3 separate regions of the Homo sapiens genome follow, and all the other regions are linked to region 1. The links come from fine-mapping of genetic effects on gene expression. A gene starts in region 1. Each other region holds a variant in brackets. All regions are shown on one strand. Distances are between the middles of the regions.

The links. PIP is the estimated chance that this variant, and not a neighbour inherited with it, causes the effect. A credible set is the group of variants that fine-mapping cannot tell apart.
Region 2: its variant is the best candidate, but not a certain one, in a credible set for the expression of SLCO4C1 in whole blood (INTERVAL, PIP 0.66).
Region 3: its variant is the best candidate, but not a certain one, in a credible set for the expression of SLCO4C1 in whole blood (GTEx, PIP 0.52).

The regions. Positions count from the first base shown.
Region 1 is chr5:102,292,829-102,299,788 of GRCh38, reverse strand. It overlaps SLCO4C1 (solute carrier organic anion transporter family member 4C1), which reads left to right and starts at 3,505. Exons shown (of 13, transcript NM_180991.5): 1 at 3,505-3,881. The coding sequence starts at 3,527. RefSeq lists an enhancer at 3,540-3,739.
Region 2 is chr5:102,790,868-102,797,827 of GRCh38, reverse strand. All of the region lies in intron 1 of PAM (peptidylglycine alpha-amidating monooxygenase), which reads right to left. Among named protein-coding and RNA genes, the nearest start is that of PAM, 39 kb to the right of the region's middle. The variant C/A (reference allele first, on the strand shown) is at 4,185.
Region 3 is chr5:102,349,347-102,356,306 of GRCh38, reverse strand. No RefSeq gene overlaps it. Among named protein-coding and RNA genes, the nearest start is that of SLCO4C1, 57 kb to the right of the region's middle. The variant CT/T (reference allele first, on the strand shown) is at 3,949.

The DNA.
Region 1 (6,960 bases):
ATTAACAACACAGAGGGGAAAATGATAAAGTACTCAAGATAGGCATATCAATACATTTTCATCCAGTATACATATCTACATGGAAGGCCCAAATCATAAGATCGCTCTTAAGCATGGAATCAGAGCAAGGGGAGTTAGTAGGACAATCTTGATAACTTCTGTCATTAAGCCACTTCACCTTGTTTCATCCAATTCCTGAAAGGAAAGACCTACTGCACATCCCAGAGAATGATATCCAGAGGCAGGGACTGCTTCTGTTTACAGTGTGGGAGCCTTACCATAAATTTTGGACATTCTCTTTCTCCCATTCTCCACCCTTTAAAAACATAGCAAATAAAATGTACTATAAGAAGAGTAAAGTATCAATTACCTTCTGAAATTTAAGATGGTATATTTTGACTGTGTTCATTAGAGGCAGATTTAACCTAGATTGACCAAACAATTAATTTTAAAATGGACGTTTTTCCATAGAATTATCAGGGATGAAAACTAACAATTTTTCTTTCCTATTTTTGTTTTTTGGTTTTTGTTGCAAACCGAAGCCCCTTCCATCACTGCAGCATAAAGAATGTAAGGGAACAGGAAATTGAAACTTTCAGTAAGAGCAAGATGTATTTAAGATGAAGCAATAGTAATTTTGCTAATCTTTAACCAAAATTCTCTCTCTAACACTGTGAGAGTGGAGATTTCTCCTTAGTATGAATTTAAGTGCACGATGATTATGCTACTCTGATTTTGATAGTATAGCATGGATTTATTAAGTCACAGCTGCAAAATAGTCTTAAGCCATGATTGTATGTAATCACATCCCATCAAAACAAAATTTTCTGGTTGTGTAAATTACTTCGTATTCCATAGATAAAATGGTGATCAAAATAGTTACCTACTTTGAGTCCATTTTTGTAGAAAGCAAGCCCAGGAAGATTACATACCATGCTTAATTTGAATACCTCCAAAATCTAGGTTTTCAGAGCAGCATTAATCTTCTAAGCCTCACGAATATCACAGAATTTTGAATTTTGATCTCTTAAAATTGCTATGCAATAATTTAACCTGATGGAGATACACTGTAGTTATTAAAAGACAGAAAATGCAAAGTTTAGGGAAGACTTCTGGCTAAGAGAGCCGAGTTCAGATCCTTAAGTGGCAGTTCACTTATTAGCTATGTGACTTTGGGACAGTTACTAATTCTTTATGGGATATGGTTTCCTCAATATGTAAACTATATATAACAGTGCAGCTGCTTTTGTAAAGATTTTAATAATGGGGCATATAGCAGACATTTTAAATGTTAGCTCCTACTTCTACTCTTTCCCCATGTTTTAGGCCAATCTAGAATTTATTTTTATTTTTAATTCTTATTTTTTTGAGACAAGGTCTGGCTCTATGGCACAGCTGGAGTACTCATTGCAACCTCACCCTCCCAGGTTGTAAGCGACCCTCCCACCTCAGCCTCCCAAGTATCTGGAACTACAGGCGTGCACCACCATGCCAGGCTAAGTTTTGCATTTTTGGTAGAGACAGGGTTTTGTCGTGTTGCCCAGGCTGGTCTCAAACTCCTGGACTCAAGGCACCCACCTTGGCCTCCCAAAGTACTGGGATTACAGGCCTGCACCTCTGCGCCCGGCTGGCCAGTCTAGAGTTTTCTCGATTGTGAGGAAACAGGTAACAGAATGTACCTCTGTCCAAAGTAAGATACATATTTTATATCTGTCTCTCAACCCAGTAAACACAGCATATATAATTGAAACAAAAGTTTCACAAAATAGTATTTATCATATTATGTGCCATGTACTATGTATTATTACTGTCTGTTTCCTATTAAAACATAAGCACCATAAGGGTAGGGGTATTTGCCAGTCTTTGTTCACTTGTGTACCCCCAGAACTTAGAACAATGTTTGGCACCTAGGACACAAGAATTTTTTGTGTCTGTGTTAAGTGAAAGAATGAATGACTAAATTGTACCTACCATGACACAATGGTGTTAAGCTCTTCGAAGTGTTTTTCTTATTTATTCCACAGTTAGACATGTATTATTATTATTATTATTATTATTAAGAGACAGAGTTTCACTCTTTCACCCAGACTGGATTGAAGTGGCACAATCTCGGTTCACTGTACCCTCCACCTTCCGAGTTCAAATGATTCTCCTGCCTCAGCCTCCCAAGTAGCTGGGATTACAGGCCTGCACCACCACACCTGGCTAATTTTTGTATTTTTAGTAAAGACAGTGTTTCACCATGTTGGCCAGGCTAATCTTGAACTCCTGACCTCAGGTAATCCACCCGCCTCAGCCTCCCAAAGTGCTAGGATTACAGGCGTGAGCCACCGCGCCTGGCCCGGTAGAAATTATTTACATGATTGTCATCACTGTATATCTTACATATGCAATATACAGCAGAGAGACAATTTCTGGTCCTTCAGTTTCGGAGAAGGAAAAGCAAAGCAGTGGTTATGCTGTGATGTTCATCCTGGTGGTGATGGGGGTGGGGTGGGGTGGATTTCTTTTTCTAAGGAGGACTGAGGCAGGAAAATAGGGTCTGGAGGCAGGAAACATAAGGCCTATTCACACTTCAGCTGTAACAGGAAATATCCTCTCCATAGGGCGTAGGCCATAAATGACTTTGTAACTTTACTTCATCTTCTCCCTTTACATAGGGCATACCCAAAGTAACCAATGGAATCCTCTAGGGGGTATTTAAACTCCCCAAAATTCTGTAACCGGGCCTTTGAGCCCCTATGCTCGCCCGTTCCCACACTGTGGAGTGTACTTTCATTTTCAATAAACCCCTTCATTCCTTCCTTGCTTTGTTTGTGCGTTTTCTTCAATTCTTTCTTCAAGATGCCAAGAACCTGGACACCTTCTACCAGTAACAGGATGACAGGCAAGAGTCTTATCAAGATGCTCATGAACCAAAGTATACCTCTGACGTCTTGATTCTTGGAGTCCAAGCCTAGACTGCTTTGGTAAGCAGCAAAGGAAGAAAACGCAAGATAGTTTCCTGAACAATCTCCTGATGCAACTGTTTACAGGTTTCATGTCAGCACCCAAGGGGAGCTTATGGCCAGAGACTCCCACAGTCTCTGTGTGTTCCCAGTGCTTGGGCTCAAGGGAGGCGCGCTGCGGGCTGAAGGCTCAGGTCAGAACCGCAGGGGCTTGGGCGGAGGCGGACTCCGGTCGAAGGCTGTGGGGTGAGAACTCTCGCCCCCTCTACTCGGCCGCCGCCGGGTGGCACGCCCACGCCGCGCCTTCCGGTTGGTCCTTGAGGCGACGGGTGAGGCACAGCTGAGCGCCAAAGCCACAGGCTGGGGCGCTAACGCCCCCGCTCAGCGCTCTGCGCTCCAGACAGCTGCGAGCTGGAGTAGGAAGGTTCAGGCGGTGGCGGAGAGTGCGCTGGAGGCTGGAGGGCCAGGAGGCGGGAAGCTTCCCGCACGGGGGCGCTGTCACCTGCCTGTGGGAGGAGCCAGAGAGGGACCTGGCTCTGCTGCTCTGAAGCACCGGAGTCGGGAGAACCCATCCAGACATGAAGAGCGCCAAAGGTATTGAGAACTTGGCTTTTGTCCCCTCCAGCCCAGACATCCTGCGCCGCTTGTCTGCGTCGCCCTCCCAAATCGAAGTCTCTGCCTTGTCCTCTGACCCCCAAAGAGAGAATTCTCAGCCACAGGAGCTTCAGAAGCCCCAGGAGCCCCAGAAGTCACCAGAGCCATCTCTGCCTTCAGCCCCTCCCAATGTCTCCGAAGAGAAGCTCCGGTCACTGTCGCTGTCCGAGTTTGAGGAGGGGTCTTACGGCTGGAGGAACTTCCATCCTCAATGTCTCCAGCGCTGCAACACACCTGGAGGCTTTCTGCTTCACTACTGCCTCTTGGCCGTCACGCAAGGTAAAGTCCAGCGCCCGCTTGAGGCTCGGGCCAGTGGAGAGCGAGGTGGGCACGGCGAGCCAGCCGGGGGAGAGGGCAGGTGCGCGGGGTCCGTGGGACGGTGGACGCGCCCTGCAAGGTGGCCCCGGGTTTGGAACTTGCTTGCGCTCTCACCAAGGTCAACCTACCGGCCCCCAGCCAGCCTTCCAAAGTTCAGCTTCTCCTTTATCACTACAGTTCAAACTTGCAATACAAGCCTTTTTCTCTTTTGTGTTTTACCTCAGTTTAGCGGATTCAAGACTTACAGGGAAGATTACAAGAACCTTCCTTTGGGAAAGGTATACCCTGGGGAGTTTATTTTACATTATAAAGACAAAAATTTACCTAGGCACTCTTTAAAGGTATTTTACTTTTACATTTGTTTCATTGCCTCAGGGGAAGGAGTAATACGTTTGCAGGTGGGAGTGGGATGCCTTACAAGGAAGAAAGCTATGAAAAATCTATCGTATAAATTAGATACAGACATTCATGTTTTGTGAGTGTATTTAGTTTGAGAGTATGTGGTCACCAGAGGAGCCCAGTGAGTAAATTAGCAAAGGCTCCCGACGTTGTTGAGCCTTAATCTTCATTGTGTTACATTAGTTATCCAGCATCTGTTTTGTTCTAGGATCTCTTTTAGGTTCTCTTGGGAGTTACAGATTCAGTTCAGATTTATACCCTCAGGGGCTTGCAATCTAAGCTCAGTTTGGAGGAGTGATATCCTGGAGGGAGAACAGCTCCCTTGAAAGAAGGCACAGGGAAGGTTAAAGCTGCTTCTGGTGTGTTCAATACAGAGGTTGAAGGAAAATAGGAAGTTAACCTGAGTTGACTTTGAGGAAGGGTGGAGAAGAGGTGGAGAGGAGTCAAGAAGGACATGCCGAAGCTTAGCTGAATTGGAATGTAGATATTTTTTGGTCACTTGAGTCATAGTCCGAGAATATTTTCTGTATAATCAGTCAAGGATTAATTGGAAGAAATACAACCTTAGAAATATAGATTTTAGAGGGTTGGAAACAGCTCATTTTTTAAGTTAATAGAAAACTAAGTCAAAGCCTAAGTATACTTTTTGTTCTTATTCTTCCTCTTCAAGGAACCCAGGGCCCCTTGCTTTGCGCATTAGATGCTAAGTAACCATTTATTGATTGCAAGTCCGCTGCAGCTCTTCTACTGAAGGTAGATTTGTGTTGAAGAATTATTTCCCTGTCCACTTTTCTTGTCCCTACCAAAGTTCCCCTCCATTAATGTCTTGATCATAGTTTTACAAAATTGGTAATTGTGAAGCATCTCAGTGTCAAAGGAATGCGAAGATAAAAAAGTTGGACACAAGTAAAAAATGTCTTATCTTGTGTATTATCTTAAAATTCCTCTGAAATTTCTATATTATTCCAAAATATAACATTTTATATTTAATATAAAATATTGCCTAAAATTGTTATCAAATGTAATTGTCACTCCTAGAAAATTTGTCAGGTTTAGTCTGGAGCAGCATCTACCCAGAGGTCCCCAATTTAAGAAGCTTAATCTGAGATAATAGTGACCCAATAGGCTGGGCATGGTGGCTCACGCCTGTAATCCCAGCACTTTGGGAGGCCGAGGCGGGCGGATCAGTTGAGGTCAGAACTTGGATACCAGCCTGGCCAACATGGTGAAACCCGTCTCTACTAAAAATACAAAAAATTATGGCCGGGCGCCGTGGCTCACGCCTGTAATTGCAGCACTTTGGGAGGCTGAGGCAGGCAGATCAACTGAGGTCAGGAGTTCGAGACCAGCCTGGCCAACACGGTGAAACCCCGTCTCTACCAAAAATACAAAAACTAGTTGGGCATTGTGGCGCATGCCTGCAATCCCAGCTACTTGGAGGGCTGAGGTGGGAAAAACACTTGAACCCAGGAGGCGGAGTTTGAAGTGGACCGAGATCGTGTCATTGCACTCCGGCCTAGGCAACAGAGGGAAACTCTGTCTCAAAACAAAACAAAACACCACAAAAATTAGCCGGGTGCGGTGGCACACGCCTGTAGTCCCAGCTATTCAGGAGGCTGAGGCACGAGAATGGCTGGAACCCGGGAGGTGGAGGTTGCAGTGAGCCGAGATGGCGCCACTGCACTCCAGCCTGGTGACAGAGCGAGGCAAGGTCTCAAAAAAAAGTATAATAATAAAAAGTGTGACCCAATAAATTACTAGTTTACGTTTCAGTTTAAGTTTGAATGCCTGAAAACTTTATTGCCATGTTTCTCAAACATGATCCTTAAGATCATTTCCATGGTATATTTAAATATACATTTAATTGGAAAGAAAAACAAAATTTCTCGAATGAGTTTATTTAACCCAGCATTTCTCAAAGACAAACAGGGATTCTCTAAGTACTTAATTTTCTAATGTGCTTCCTATTGTCATTCATTTACAACAGAGAGATGTAGTATGGAGCGTTTCCTGATTTTTTTGTTTTTGTTTTTTTAAGTAGTGTTCTTGGAACTTGTATAGCATAGAATTCACTTTAAGAGTCATTGGATTAATGTGCTATCCTTCCTGAGGAGTTTACAAATTTTTTTTTCAAAGAGAAGTTTTACCATAAAGACAATTCTTTCTATTAACTAATTTTTAATCAGTATGGCAAGTGATAGGGAAGTTGATTTTATTGGATGCGGAAAATTTTGTATTATTAGATAACGTATAAAAATGTCATCCTAAGATACTTTAGGTACTTTATTTTGAAATCCTAAGAATTGTAAATTGGCTTATAGTCTTATGAAATGGGTATAAAAGTAAAAAATATGTCATGAGTTTTGAAACTTATTAAATTTGTTGAATTTATTTTTTTTGAAATATATTTTCAGCTACGGTCTTAATCAAAATTTAAAGAGATTTGTGGAGATCATGACTTGTATGTATATACTCATTCTGGTATTGAATGAAAACAATTTATCATACCTAAGTAAAAAGGATACCTAGTTAATTCAATCAGATGTTTTTTATTTTCAACTTATAGTAATGTTTAAACTCCTGTAAGTTTAATCTATATCTGGACTGTTAATGAATGAAAACAATTTATCATACCTAAGTA
Region 2 (6,960 bases), 500 kb before region 1:
GCATACAGGAAAGGTGGAAGGCTAATACCATGTACTTTATATGGCTTCTAACATGTAAATACATTTGACCTGATACTATTTTAAAAAAATGTTTGTATTTAGCAATCTGATTATACTTAAATATTCTTAAAACCTAAATGCTGGAACATTGCCAATTTTCTCTTCTCTTTCCTACCAAAATGACATATCTCTATCAATAATTCTTTGGAAAAATATTCAAGGCACTCTCAGAAAAATTATTGTGCTTCATTATGCAAAATGGAAATGCAGCTTTAAAAAATATTCTGCCTGACATTCAGTTCTGTATACTGCTACAGCAGGTCGAAAGCCATTAGCCACCTGCTGAAAACACATACTAGGAAACAAAATGTCCTTCAAAATCATTTTGCATAAGGTATTCTCTAAGCAAAAGGGTGAGGTTATATTCTAAATGTTTATGAATGTGATGGCTCAGAAATACACTCACCATGACATATTAATTTTAAAATAATATTTAATAATGATCTTATGATTTAGAGCATTCACATTGGATTTTTAAAAGCACCATGTCTATTATGAGAGAAATGAAAGTTACAGAAGATACATAAAATAACCAGTTCCATGGCTGTTGTTGTCTCCTTTTCCAATAAAAATAAGAGACTCATTATTATTCCTGGGATTCTTAGGACAATCTCTTTTATGCCAGTAGTCTTCTGAAGAATGACCCAACAGTCCTTTGGTATGTTAAAGATATTCTTTAAGTCTGTTTTTTACAGAAGAAGCAAAACACCAGCCCTTGTGCTGTTGCACATTCAAAATAATTCACAATTCATTTTTGTTTAGCATTTTGAAACTTGGCAATGAAGCATATGGCTCTCTATCATTATTCTATTATTAGGTTCCATTAGCAATAATTAGATAAATGGTCATTTAGCACTTTGTACAACCAGGTACTGAGTTAAGTGTTAGACACACCTTAATGCATTCAATCCATGTAACGACTTTATGACACAGGTAATATCTATTACCATTTTACAAATAAGAAAACCAAGGCACAAAGAGGTTAAGCAGCTTGCTCATAGTTACACAGATAGCAGATGACTATTTCAAAAAGGGAAATTTATAGCTTCCCTCATGTAAGATGAGGGAATGTGAGCTTCTGAATGTGATGAGCAAACGAAAGAAAATGAAGGAGGCAAAGTACAAAGAGAGTTGAATGAAAGGACTGAATTGAAAGAAATGCTTTCTCTTTCACAATTTTCTCTAATCTTATTTGGCTGACTGTGGTGCTCAAAAAAATGACAATAAACAGGTAAGAGAATTATAATCTTACCAAGAGCAAAGATGACTCCTACCAGACTCCTACCAGACACTAGGAAGATCAATTTTTCTTGCCTTATTTAAAAGGTGAATTTCCACTGTGTGGAACTGCAAATATCCAATCTCATTGCCCAAACTCTGGGATGACATCTGGGAAATAAATAAACATTTTGGTACCATGTCAGATTCCCTGGTTGCAGAGGCACAGATCGATCTATGAGTCCTAGACTATTGACCGACAAACCTGGTTCCTAACATGGATTGCAGGTGACCTTTGGAGACTGACTTCATGAAGGGCCCATGGAGCTCACAGACTATTAGCTACAGAGGGTCCAACTCCACTGGTGTTGCCCTCATTAACTTGAACAAATAAAAACTTGTTTGTACAGATCTCAAATTACCTCCTGTTACAAATGTCCAGTGCCTCTTCCAAGGGCCCAGATCCAAAAATCTGTCAACAGATCACAGGAGTTTTTGCTGAGGCTGGTGCATATTCTGATTTGTTTGGATCATTTAGAAGCCTTTAAACAAAATATCACAGGCCTCTAAATCTTCAAGTATAAACTAAAAAAAATAACTCATGGTTAATAAACTATGAACTCCAACAAAATGTGTCTGACAAAATGGAAATTGTAAAACATTTCAGGAAAAAATGCACTAAACTCTCTGATAATGAGGTTGGAAAAGATTCCCTTTTCCGCACCCAAAACAAAGGAATGAAAATCCCTGCTTTAAGTGAAGAGAGTTGCCATTTATTTTATGGCTGAAGACCAAATTATACATATTTTTGTGACTTTCCGTTAGGGATCAAGGTCAATCACCAGATTTTTCTCTCACACCAACCACACGGCAGCAGCACAAATACGTATGTTCCTCATCCCTTTCACTGTGAATTTTTAATTTTGGTTTTCCCTCTCAGAGCAGCTAAGATTTCTTCATTTGTCAAAAGGGTAGCCATTAAGAAAGTCATTTAGTTAATAAACAAGGAAATTAGCTAGCCTGATACAAAACAGATAGTAACAACACTAACAGCAATCTGTACACGCAAATTAAAGCAGCGAGAGTTGCTCTGATAAGCACTTTTAAACTGTTAGTGGTACTCCAAAAACGGCATCACCAGTATTAGAGGTTAGACAGCAGTTTAAAACATTTCTTCCTGTCTCATTTGGTTCCTGCAAAAATCTCAATAGTAATTTTTGAGTTTTACCTAAGGATGTGCAGAGAAAGACATCAGTAGAAAGAGGAAACAAGAAGTATCAAAGTAGGATAACTCATCTCCCATTCCAAGCACTTTTCTTTTTCTTTTTCTTCTCTTCTTTTTTTTTTTTTTTTTTTTTTTGAGACATTGTCTCACTTTGTCACCCTGGCTGGAGTGCAGTGGTGCCATCATGACTCACTATGGCCTCAACCTCCCGGGTTCAAGTGATTCTCCTGCCTCAGCCCCACAAGTAGCTGGGACTAACAGAGCCCACCACCACTCCCAGCTAATTTTTTTATTTTTTGTAGAGATGGGGTTTCCCTATGTTGACCAGGCTGGTCTCCAACTCCTGGGCACAAGTGATCTGCGAGCCTCAGCCTGCCAGAGTGCTAGGATTACAGGTGTGAGCCACCGCACCTGGCCCCAAGCATTTTCCTGCATCTTCTTTTGTTACTCTTTGGAGCAACCAGCTAATGCTTGTTTAAGTTTGAGGAAAGCCAAATAACCTAAGTAAACAACACAATGGACACAGGACTTGTAAATCTCATGAAAGACAATGCCAGATTTTAAAGTACATAGTCATCAAACAAAAAAATTAGCATCAGAATGTTCATAGCCACATGTAAATGTTCTATATTTTTTAAGCTGATAATCTCTATTTAATTTGTACATGTAATAATTTTTTGGTGGTGGAATCAGCATAAATATAAATATCACTGTTTCATATTGAATCAAACTATCTTCAGTTTTCTACAAAAAAAATAAATCTTTTTTTTCACCTAACCTTCCTTGGTACAAAAATTAAATCTTTCTTAATATAGAATAGGAAGAATCTGCTAATTCAATAATACTAATTTCTTTTTTGCTGATTAAAAAAGGAATGAAAAAAATCTCCTCATCTAGTCACTTCCTATAAAATGCTTGAAATGCTTTGTTCACCATTGGCTTTAATAATTCCTTCCTTCAGTTGGTGGAAAATGTATCTGAATCAGTAAGAATCTACTTCTGCCAATTCCTTTCAGGAAGACAACCTTCCACCTACTGAAATCACACCTCCACTCCAGGCTGTAGCCATTCCCAGCCTCCCTCCTTCACCTCAGTGGGACCTTGTTATCCTGATCCGCACAGCATTATGCTGAACTCCCAAGATAAGGGGAACAGAAAATAACCAGTAACAGGTATACATGTTTAAACTATCATTAAAATAGTTCTATAAAATAGAAAGCCAGAGTCTCAAGGGGGTAGCTGGCCAAGGATAAATAAACCACTTCAAGTATAATATAAATTCAAAAGTGTTAAATAAATAATAAATTTTACTTAAATCTACCAAATAAAAAGATAAGTAGTTATATAAATATGGTCAATACATTTTTTAAAAAGAAAAAAATATGCATTTAATTTGTTAAACCAAAATACTCAGATAAATATAGCATAATATATTCAATACATATTTCACATATTGCTGACTTTAAAAGTTTTTTATTCTAAGTATAAAAGTAATCTTCTCTTACTATAATCACTACAAATTGATAAATTAATTGTGTATATAAACTTAGGATAAAATACTTGCTATAATTACTTAAAGCATTTAATATTTTCAAAAGTGTTTTAAAATCTGTTCCTGGCTCAGTTTCTTAAATGACCAGGGATATTTCTATATTGCTGCTTGTCTGAGCTTTGAAAAAAA[C/A]CAGTACTTAAAATGCTGCATTTAAGCAATAGCTGTTTTAGTTAAATACATTCTAATAGTTCCAAAATTTCAAACATTTCCACTGACAAGTGTCTTTGGTTGTTGTTTTGTTTTGAGACAGTGTCTCACTCTGTCACCCAGGCTGGAGAGCAGTGGTGCGATCAGGCTCACTGCAGCCTCCACCTCCCAGGCTCAAGCAATCCTCCCACGTCAGCCTCCCAAATAGCTAGTACCACAGGTGTGTGCCACCATGCTCAGCTATTTTTTTTTTCATTTTTTTTTGAAGAGACAGGGGTCTCCCTATGTTGCCCAGACTGCTCCCAAACTCCTGGGCTCAAGGGATCCTCCGAATCTGCCAAAGTGCAGGGGTTACAGGCATGAGCCACTGCACCCAGCCCAATTTACAAGTCTTTAACTTAAACATTAGAAATGGAAAAGCCTAGGCACTTTGGACTTAATTTACACGGAGGGAATTTTAAACGCAAAGAATCTTCGGTGTTCTATAAAAAATTCACACATTCAGAGAAGGTATCTTACCTAATTTTTAAAGGAAGAAAGGAAAAAGTATGAGTAAAACATTATTTTAGTGGAGAATGTTGTGCTCCTATGAGGCCCAAGATTCATAACCAACCATGATGCCAAAGGGGAGATTTTTTTAGAGGAATGAAAAAATTATTCCAATGTTACTTGATCAACACTAGACTCCACTAGGAGGCACTCTGAACTTACGTGCTACTGTATGACCTAATACTTTTGTGTCACTTTTTGTGTGTGTGTGGCTGCAGAAAGCACATTTCCTGCTCATAATCAAAGTGTCAGCCAGTAAGAGACCACCATAATAACTGTGGTAGGAGCCTCAAAAACTGAAGCTGTATTCTGATTTGTAAGAAAACCAATGGTAATCATGTGTTACAAACTCTTCACTTGATAAAATGATGGTTTCAGGGTTCCTTTAAATAGGGAAGACTTCTAATGTACTGAGAAGAGATTCCAAATTACAAATACTAAATTTGTCATCAGCCTTTCATGTTATTACACTGCCCCATTCCAACTCTTCACAATGCCAGTCAGTGGCAAATGGGTTACCATGCATTATGTTTTTAAAAGCAGAAAAGAGTGCACACAAAGTGCCCAAAGGCAACCAAAAAGACCTTAACAGCCAATTGCTTGGCAAATAGATAAAGAAGAAAAAAGTTTATGTAATTGCTACCTGCTTTTTATACAAACACATGTATTTCCTGGAACATGGTAAATGTTTGTTTTGAAAGTAACCTCCATAGTCTTTCCCCACGTCGTTTATCAGTACTGGATTGGAGAGCAGTTTATGACAATAAAGATTTCATTTACCTTTAATATTTTTCTCAACATTAAGATTTTAGATTACTTTTGTCACTTCTTATTCCCTCCAGCATATACACAAACCCACATATACACACACATTAATGTTAAGCTTCATATGTCTAAGGTGAATTTCCTAAATTCCATACATACCATGTTTAAATATAAATTACAACCCCCAAACAATAAATGGCTCTAATCTCCACTTGTGAAAAAAAAGAAGGATCAAAGAGTTTGTCAAACACTCTGCTGTAAAGAACACAAATCTGAGCAATAGTCCATTTTTTATGTTCACCCTTATTAGTATGGGTACAACTTCTCCCAATGTTTGTATATTGCCCAGTAAAGATGACATCTGGTGTTGTTTCAACAATATTTGGAGTAATGAAGCAGATCCAAATTAAAATGTTCCCTATAGCTATATTTTCCTTCAAGAAACTCCTACGATGTCCTAGATAAAACCCTAGAAACAGGCTATGTGAAACTACCTGGTTTATCTATTGTAAGACTAAATACAACTAATTAATTGACAGGATTTCAACCCAGGGTTGAAAGAAGGGAATTTACTACAGTATGCCTATCTTGCATTCAGAAACAAACCCCAAATAAAGTTAGCTATCTAAAGAGGTTTTTTGGTTTGGTTTTAAAATTTATTTTATTTTTTCTTCAGTAACACTTGGCAAAATGTTGAAAACAGAAGAATCTGCTGGAGAAAAAGTAGTTGCAAAAGAAATAAAATACAACTGGGTTAATGTCTTTAACACATAAATAAGTCTTACAAATATAAAAGAAAAGAGGAAAACATCAACAGAGTAACCACATGTAGAAGTAAAAATAATATAAAAATGTTCAAAAATAATATAAAAAATGTTCATGTTATCAATCCAAGTTATAACGTATTCTTGAATTGGCAGTTAAAAAAAAGAAAGCTAATTTCAGGCTGGGAAATGGGTGTTCTCATACAGACTGCCACAGAAATATAAACTGTCACATGGCTTTTTTAAAGAACAATTTGGCATATACGTATCAAACACATAAAAATATCCACACTCTTCTACTTAATTTTACTTCTAGAAATTTATTTTAAGAAAGTAGAGATAGGAAAAAATTAATCTAAAAGTATTTTCATCAGAGTGTCATTTATAACAGCAAAAACAAATTTCTAAGATCCCAATAATAGAGGACTGATAGAGGCATAAAATAAAATGTAATGCAGCTACTTAGATGCAGCTGTAAAAGAACATTTAGTGACAGGAGAAAATGTTCACTATCTAATGCTCAGTGAAAAATATTGCTCAGTTATCTTAATTTTATGTCTTATGGTTTTGAATCTCTGTTTGTATATGTGCATATATGCATGAACAGAACAGCAGAATGGCTGACACACAAACAAATGATATCAGTGCTTATCTCTGGGTAGTAAAATAATGGGTAATTT
Region 3 (6,960 bases), 57 kb before region 1:
TGAAGTCTTTAATCCATCTTGAATTAATTTTTGTATAAGGTGTAAGGAATGGATCCAGTTTCAGCTTTCTACATATGGCTAGCCAGTTTTCCCAGCACCATTTATTAAATAGGGAATCTTTTTTCCTATTTCTTGTTTTTGTCAGGATTGTCAAAGACCAGATGGTTGTAGATGTGTGGTGTTATTTCTGAGGCCTCTGTTTTGTTCCATTGGTCTATCTCTGTGTTTTGGTTCCAGTACCATGTAGCCTTGTAGGGTAATTTGAAGTCAGGTAGCATGATGCCTCCAGCTTTGTTCTTTTGGCTTAGGATTGTCTTGGCATTGAGGGCTCTTTTTTGGTTCCATATGAACTTTAAAGTAGTTTTTTCCAATTCTGTGAAGAAAGTCATTGGTAGCTTGATGGGAATGGCATTGAATCTATAAATTACCTTGGGCAGTATGGCCATTTTCACAATATTAATTCTTCCTATCCACGAGCATGGAATGTTCTTCCATTTGTTTGTGTCCTCCTTTATTTCATTGAGCAGTGGTTTGTAGTTCTCCTTGAAGAGGTCCTTCACATCCCTTGTAAGTTGGATTCCTAGGTATTTTATTCTCTTTGTAGCAATTGTGAATGGGAGTTCACTCATGATTTGGCTCTCTGTTTGTCTGTTATTGGTGTATAGGAATGCTTGTGATTTTTGCACATTGATTTTGTATCCTGAGACTTTGCTGAAGTTGCTTATCAGCTTAAGGAGATTTGGGGCTGAGATGATGGGGTTTTCTAAATATACAATCATGTCATCTGCAAACAGGAACATTTTGAATACCTCTTTTCTTAATCGAATACCCTTTATTTCTTTCTCTTGCCTGATTGCCCTGGCCAGAACTTCCAACACTATGTTGAATAGGAGTGGTGAGAGAGGGCATCCCTGTCTTGTGCCAGTTTTCAAAGGGAATGCTTCCAGTTTTTGCACATTCAGTATGATATTGGCTGTGGATTTGTCATAAATAGTTCTTATTATTTTGATATACATTCCATAAATACCTAGTTTATTGAGCATTTCTAGCATGAAGGGCTGTTGAATTTTGTCAAAGGCCTTTTCTTCATCTATTGAGATAATCATGTGGTTTTTGTCATTGGTTCTGTTTATTCGATGGATTATGTTTATTGATTTGCATATGTTGAACCAGCCTTGCATCCCAGGGATGAAGCCCACTTGATCATGGTGGATAAGCTTTTTGATGTGCTGCTGGATTTGGTTTGTCAGTACTTTATTGAAGATTTCCGCATCAGTGTTCATCAGGGATATTAGTCTAAAATTATCTCTTTTTTTGTCTTGTCTCTACCAGGCTTTGGTATCAGGGTGATGCTGGCCTCCTAAAATGTGTTAGGGAGGATTCTCTCTTTTTCTATTGATTGTAATAGTTCCAGAAGGGACGGTACCAGCTCCTCTTTGTACCTCTGGTAGATTTCAGCAGTGAATCCGTCTGGTCCTGGACTTTTTTTGGTTGGTAGGCTATTGATTATGGCCTCAATTTCAGAGCCTGTTATTGGTCTATTCAGAGATTCAACTTCTTCCTGGTTTAGTCTTGGGAGGGTGTATGTTTCCAGGAATTCATCCATTTCTTCTAGATTTTTCAGTCTATTTGCATAGAAGTGTTTATAGAATTCTCTGATGGTAGTTTGTATTTCTGTGGGATCGGTGGTGATATCCCCTTTATCATTTTTTATTATGTCTATTTGATTCTTCTCTATTTTCTTCTTTATTAGTCTTGCTAGCGGTCTATCAATTTTGTTGATCTTTTCAAAAAACCAGCTCCTGGATTCATTGATTTTTTGAAGGGTTTTTTGTGTCTCTATCTCCTTCAGTTCTGCTCTGATCTTAGTTATTTCTTGCCTTCTGCTAGCTTTTGAATGTGTTTGCTCTTGCTTCTCCAGTTCTTTTAATTGTGATGTTAGGGTGTGAATTTTAGATCTTTCCTGCTTTCTCTTGTGGGCATTTAGTGCTATAAATTTCCCTCTAAACACTGCTTTAAATGTGTCCCGGAGATTATGGTACGTTGTGTCTTTGTTCTCATTGGTTTCAAAGAACATTGTTATTTCTGCCTTCATTTCGTTATGTACCCAGTAGTCATTCAGGAGCAGGTTGTTCAGTTTCCATGTAGTTGTGCAGTTTTGAGCGAGTTTCTTAATCCTGCATTCTAATTGTATTGCACTGTGGTCTGAGAGACAGTTGTTGTGATTTCTGTTCTTTTACATTTGCTGAGCAGTGTTTTACTTCTAACTATGTGGTCATTTTTAGAATAAGTGTGATGTGGTGCTGAGAAGAATGTATATTCTGTTGATTTGGGGTGGAGAGTTCTATAGATGTCTATTAGGTGCAGAGCTGAGTTCCTGTGCTGGATATCCTTGTTAACCTTCTGTCTCATTGATCTGTCTAATACTGAGAGTGGAGTGTTAAAGTCTCCCCTTATTATTGTGTGGGAGTCTAAGTCTCTTTTTAGGTCTCTAAGAACTTGCATTATGAATCTAGATGCTCCTGTATTGGGTGCATATATATTTAGGATAGTTAGCTCTTCTTATTGAATTGATCCCTTTACCATTATGTGATGGCCTTCTTTGTCTCTTTTGATCTTTGTTGGTTTAAAGTCTGTTTTATCAGAGACTAGGATTGCAACCCCTGCTTTTTTTTTTCTGGGCTTTCCATTTGCTTGGTAAACCTTCCTCCATCCCTTTATTTTGAGCCTATGTGTGTCTCTGCAGTGAGATGGGTCTCCTAAATACAGCATACGGATGGCTCTTGACTCTTTATCCAATTTGCCAGTCTGTGTCTTTTAATTGGGGCATTTAGGCCATTTACATTTAAAGTTAATATTGTTATATGTGAATTTCATCCTGACATTATGATGTTAGCTGATTATTTTGCTCGTTAGTTGATGCAGTTTCTTCCTAGTATCGATGGTCTTTACAATCTGGCATGTTTTTGCAGTGGCTGGTACTGGTTATTCCTTTCCATGTTTAATTCTTCCTTCAGGAGCTCTTGTAAGGGAGGCATGGTGATTACAAAATCTCTCAGCATTTTCTCATCTGTAAAGGATTTTATTTCTCCTTCACTTAGGAAGCTTAGTTTGGCTGGATATAAAATTCTGGGTTGAAAATTCTTTTCTTTAAGAATGTTGAATATTGGCTCCCACTGTCTTCTGGCTTGTAGAGTTTCTGCCAGGAGATCTGCTGTTAGTTTAATGGGCTTCCCTTTGTGGGTAACCCGACTTTCTCTCTGTCTGCCCTTAACATTTTTTCCCTCATTTCAACCTTGGTGAATCTGACAATTATGTGTCTTGGGGTTGCTCTTCTCGAGGAGTATCTTTGTGGTGTTCTCTGTCTTTCCTGAATTTGAATGTTGGCCTGCCTTGCTAGGTTGGGGAAGTTCTCCTGGATAATATCCTGAAGAGTGTTTTCCAATTTGGTTCAATTCTCCCTGTCACTTTCAGGTACACCAATCAAACGTAGATTTGGTCTTTTCCTGTACTCCCATATTTCTTGGAGGCTTTGTTTGTTTCTTTTTACTCTTTTTTCTCTAAACTTCTCCTCTTGCTTTATTTCACTAATTTGATCTTCAATCATTGATATCCTTTCTTCCACTTGATCAAATTGGCTACTGAAGCTTGTGCATGCATGACATAGTTCTCGTGCCATGGTTTTCATTTCCATCAGGTCATTTAAGGTCATCTCTACACTGTTTATTCTAGTTAGCCATTCATCTAATCTTTTTTTCAAGGTTTTTACCTTCCTTGCAATGGGTTCGAACATCTTCCTTTAGCTCGGAGAACTTTGTTATTACCAACCTTCTGAAGCCTACTTCTGTCAAATTGTCAGGTCATTTTTCATCCAGCTTTGTTCTGTTGCTGGCAATGAGCTGTGATCCTTTGGAGGAGAAGAAACGCTCTAGTTTTTAGAATTTTCAG[CT/T]TTTCTTCTCTGGTTTCTCCCCATCTTTGTGGTTTTATCTGCTTTTGGTCTTTGATGTTGGTGACCTACAGATGGGGTTTTGGTGTGGATGTCCTTTTTGTTGATGTTGATGCTATTCCTTTCTGTTTGTTAGTTTTCCTTCTAACAGTCAGGTCCCTCAGCTGCATGTCTGTTGGAGTTTGCTGGAGGTCCACTCCAGACTCTGTCTGCCTGGGTATCACCAGCAGAGGCTGCAGAACAGCAAATATTCCTGCCTGATCCTTCCTCTGGAAGCTTCATCCCAGAGGGGCACCCACCTGTATGAGGTGTCAGTCAGCCCCTACTGAGAGATGTCTCTCAGTTAGGCAACACGGGGGTCAGAGATCCACTTGAGGAGGCAGTCTGTCCATTCTCAGAGCTCAAACAGCATGCTGGGAGAACCACTGCTTCTTCAGAGCTGTCAGACAGGGAAGTTTAAGTCTGTAGAAGTTTCTGTTGCCTTTCGTTCACCTATGCCCTGCCCTCAGAGGTGGAGTCAATAGAGGCAGTAGGCCTTGCTGAGCTGTGGTGGGCTTCTCCCAGTTCAAACTTCTAAGCTGTGTTGTTTGCCTACTCAAGCCTCAGCAATGGTGGATGCCCCTTCCCCTGCCAGGCTGCTACCTGGCAGGTCCATCTCAGACTGTGTGCTAGCAGAGAGCAAGGCTCTGTGGGCATGGGACCCACCTAGCCAGGTGCGGGAGAGAATCTCCTGGTCTCCCGTTTGCTAAGACCATTGGAAAAGTGCAGTATTTAGGTGGGAATGTCCCATTTTTCCAGGTACAGTCTGTCATGGCTTCCCTTGGCTAGGAAGGGGAAATCCCCGGACCCCTTGTACTTCCCAGGTGAGGTGATGCTCCGCCCTGCTTCAGCTCACCTTCCATGGGCTGCACCCACTGTCCAACCAGTCCCAATGAGATGAACCAGGTACCTCAGTTGGAAATGCAGAAATCACCTGTCTTCTGCATTGATCACGCTGGGAGCTGCAGACTGGAGCTCTTTCTATTCAGCTGTCTTGGAACACCTACCCCATTGTATCATTCTTATGCTTTTGCATCCTCATAGCTTAGCTCCCACTTACAAGTTAGAATATATGATATTTGGTTTCCAATCCTGAGTTACTTCACTTAGAATAATGGTCTCCAACTCCCTCCAGGTTGCTGCAAATGCCATTATTTCATTTCTTTTTATGGCTGAGTAGTATTCCATGGTGTATTTGTAGCACATTTTCTTTATCCACATGTTGGTTGACAGGAATTTAGGCTCATTCTGTATTTTCGCAATTGCGAATTGTGCTATAAACTTGCGTGTGCAAATATCTTTTTAATATAATGACTTCTTTTCCTTTGGGTGGATACCCAATAGTGAGACTACTGGATCAAATGGTAGTTCTACTTTTAGTTCTTTAAGGAATCTCCTTTCTGTTTTCCACAGGGGTGGTGCTAGGTTACATTCTCACCAGCAGTGTAAAAGTGTTCCCTTTTAACCAAATCCATGACAATATCTGTTATTTTTTTACTTTTTGATTATGGTCATTCTTGCAGGAGTGAGGTGGTATCTCACTGTAGCTTTAATTTGCATTTCCCTGATAATTAATAATGTTGAATTCTTTTCATATGTTTGTTGGCTATTTTATGTCTTCTTTTGAGAATTGTCTATTCATGTCCTCAGACCACTTTATGATGGTATTATTTCTTTTTTCTTGCTGATTGGAGTTCCTTGTAGATTTGGAAATTAGTCTCTTGTCAGATGCATAATTTGTGAATGTTTTCTCTCACTCTTTGAGTTGTCTGTTTACTCTGCTATTTATTTCTTTTGCTGTGCAGAAACTGTTTAGTTTAATTAGGTCCCATCTATTTATTTATTTATTTGTTGCATTTGCTTTTGTGTTCTTGGTCATGAAGTCTTTGCCTAAGCCAACATCAGTTTTTCCAATGTTATCTCTGGAATTTTTATGGCTTCAGATCTTAGATTTAAGTTTTTTATCCATCTTGAGTTGATTTTTGTATAAGGTGAAAGATGAGCATCCAGTTTAATTTGTCTATGTGTGGCTTGCCAATTATCCCAGCACTATTTGTTAAATAGGGTGTTTTTTCCCCAATTTATATTTTTGTTTGCTTTGTTGAAGATCAGTTGGTTGTAAGTAATTGACCCTGTTTCTGGGTTCTCTATTCTGTTCCATTGGTCTATGTGCCTGTTTTTATATTAGTACCATGCTATTTGGTAACTATAGCCTTGTAGTATAGTTTGAAGTTGGGTAATGTAATACCTCCTGAATTGTTCTTTTTGCTTAGTCTTGCTTTGGCTATTCAGGCTCTTTTTTTTTGTTTCATATGAATTTTAGGATTTTTTTTCCTAGTTATGTGATGAATAATGATGGTATTTTGATGGGAATTGCACTGAATCTGTAGATTTCTTTTGGCAATATAGTCATTTTCACAATGTTGATTCTACCCATCCATGAGCATATGTTTCCATTTGTTTGTGTCATCTGTGATTTCTTTCAGCAGTGTTTTGTAGTTTTCTTTATAGAGATCTTTCCCCTCTTTGGTTAGGTATATTCCTAAGTGTTTTTTCATTTTGCAGCTGTTGTAAAAGGGATTGAGTTCTTGCTTTGTTTCTCAGCTTTATCATTGTTGGTGTATAGCAGTTCTACTGATTTGTGTATATTGATTTTTGCATCCTGAAAGTATACAGAATTTATCTGTCAGATCTAGGAGCTTTTTGGATAAGTCTTCAGAGTTTTCCAGATATATAATTATATCATTGGCAAACAGCAACAGTTTGACTTCCGTTTTACTGATTTGGATGCCCTTTACTTCTTTATCTTGTCTGATTGCTCTGGCTATTACTTCTAGTACTGGATTGAATAGAAGTGGTGAAAGTGGGCATCTTTGTCTTATTCCCGTTCTCAGGGGGAATGCTTTCAACTTTTCCCTGTTCAGGATGATGTTGGCTGTGGATTTGTCATAGATACCTTTTATTACCTTGTGGTT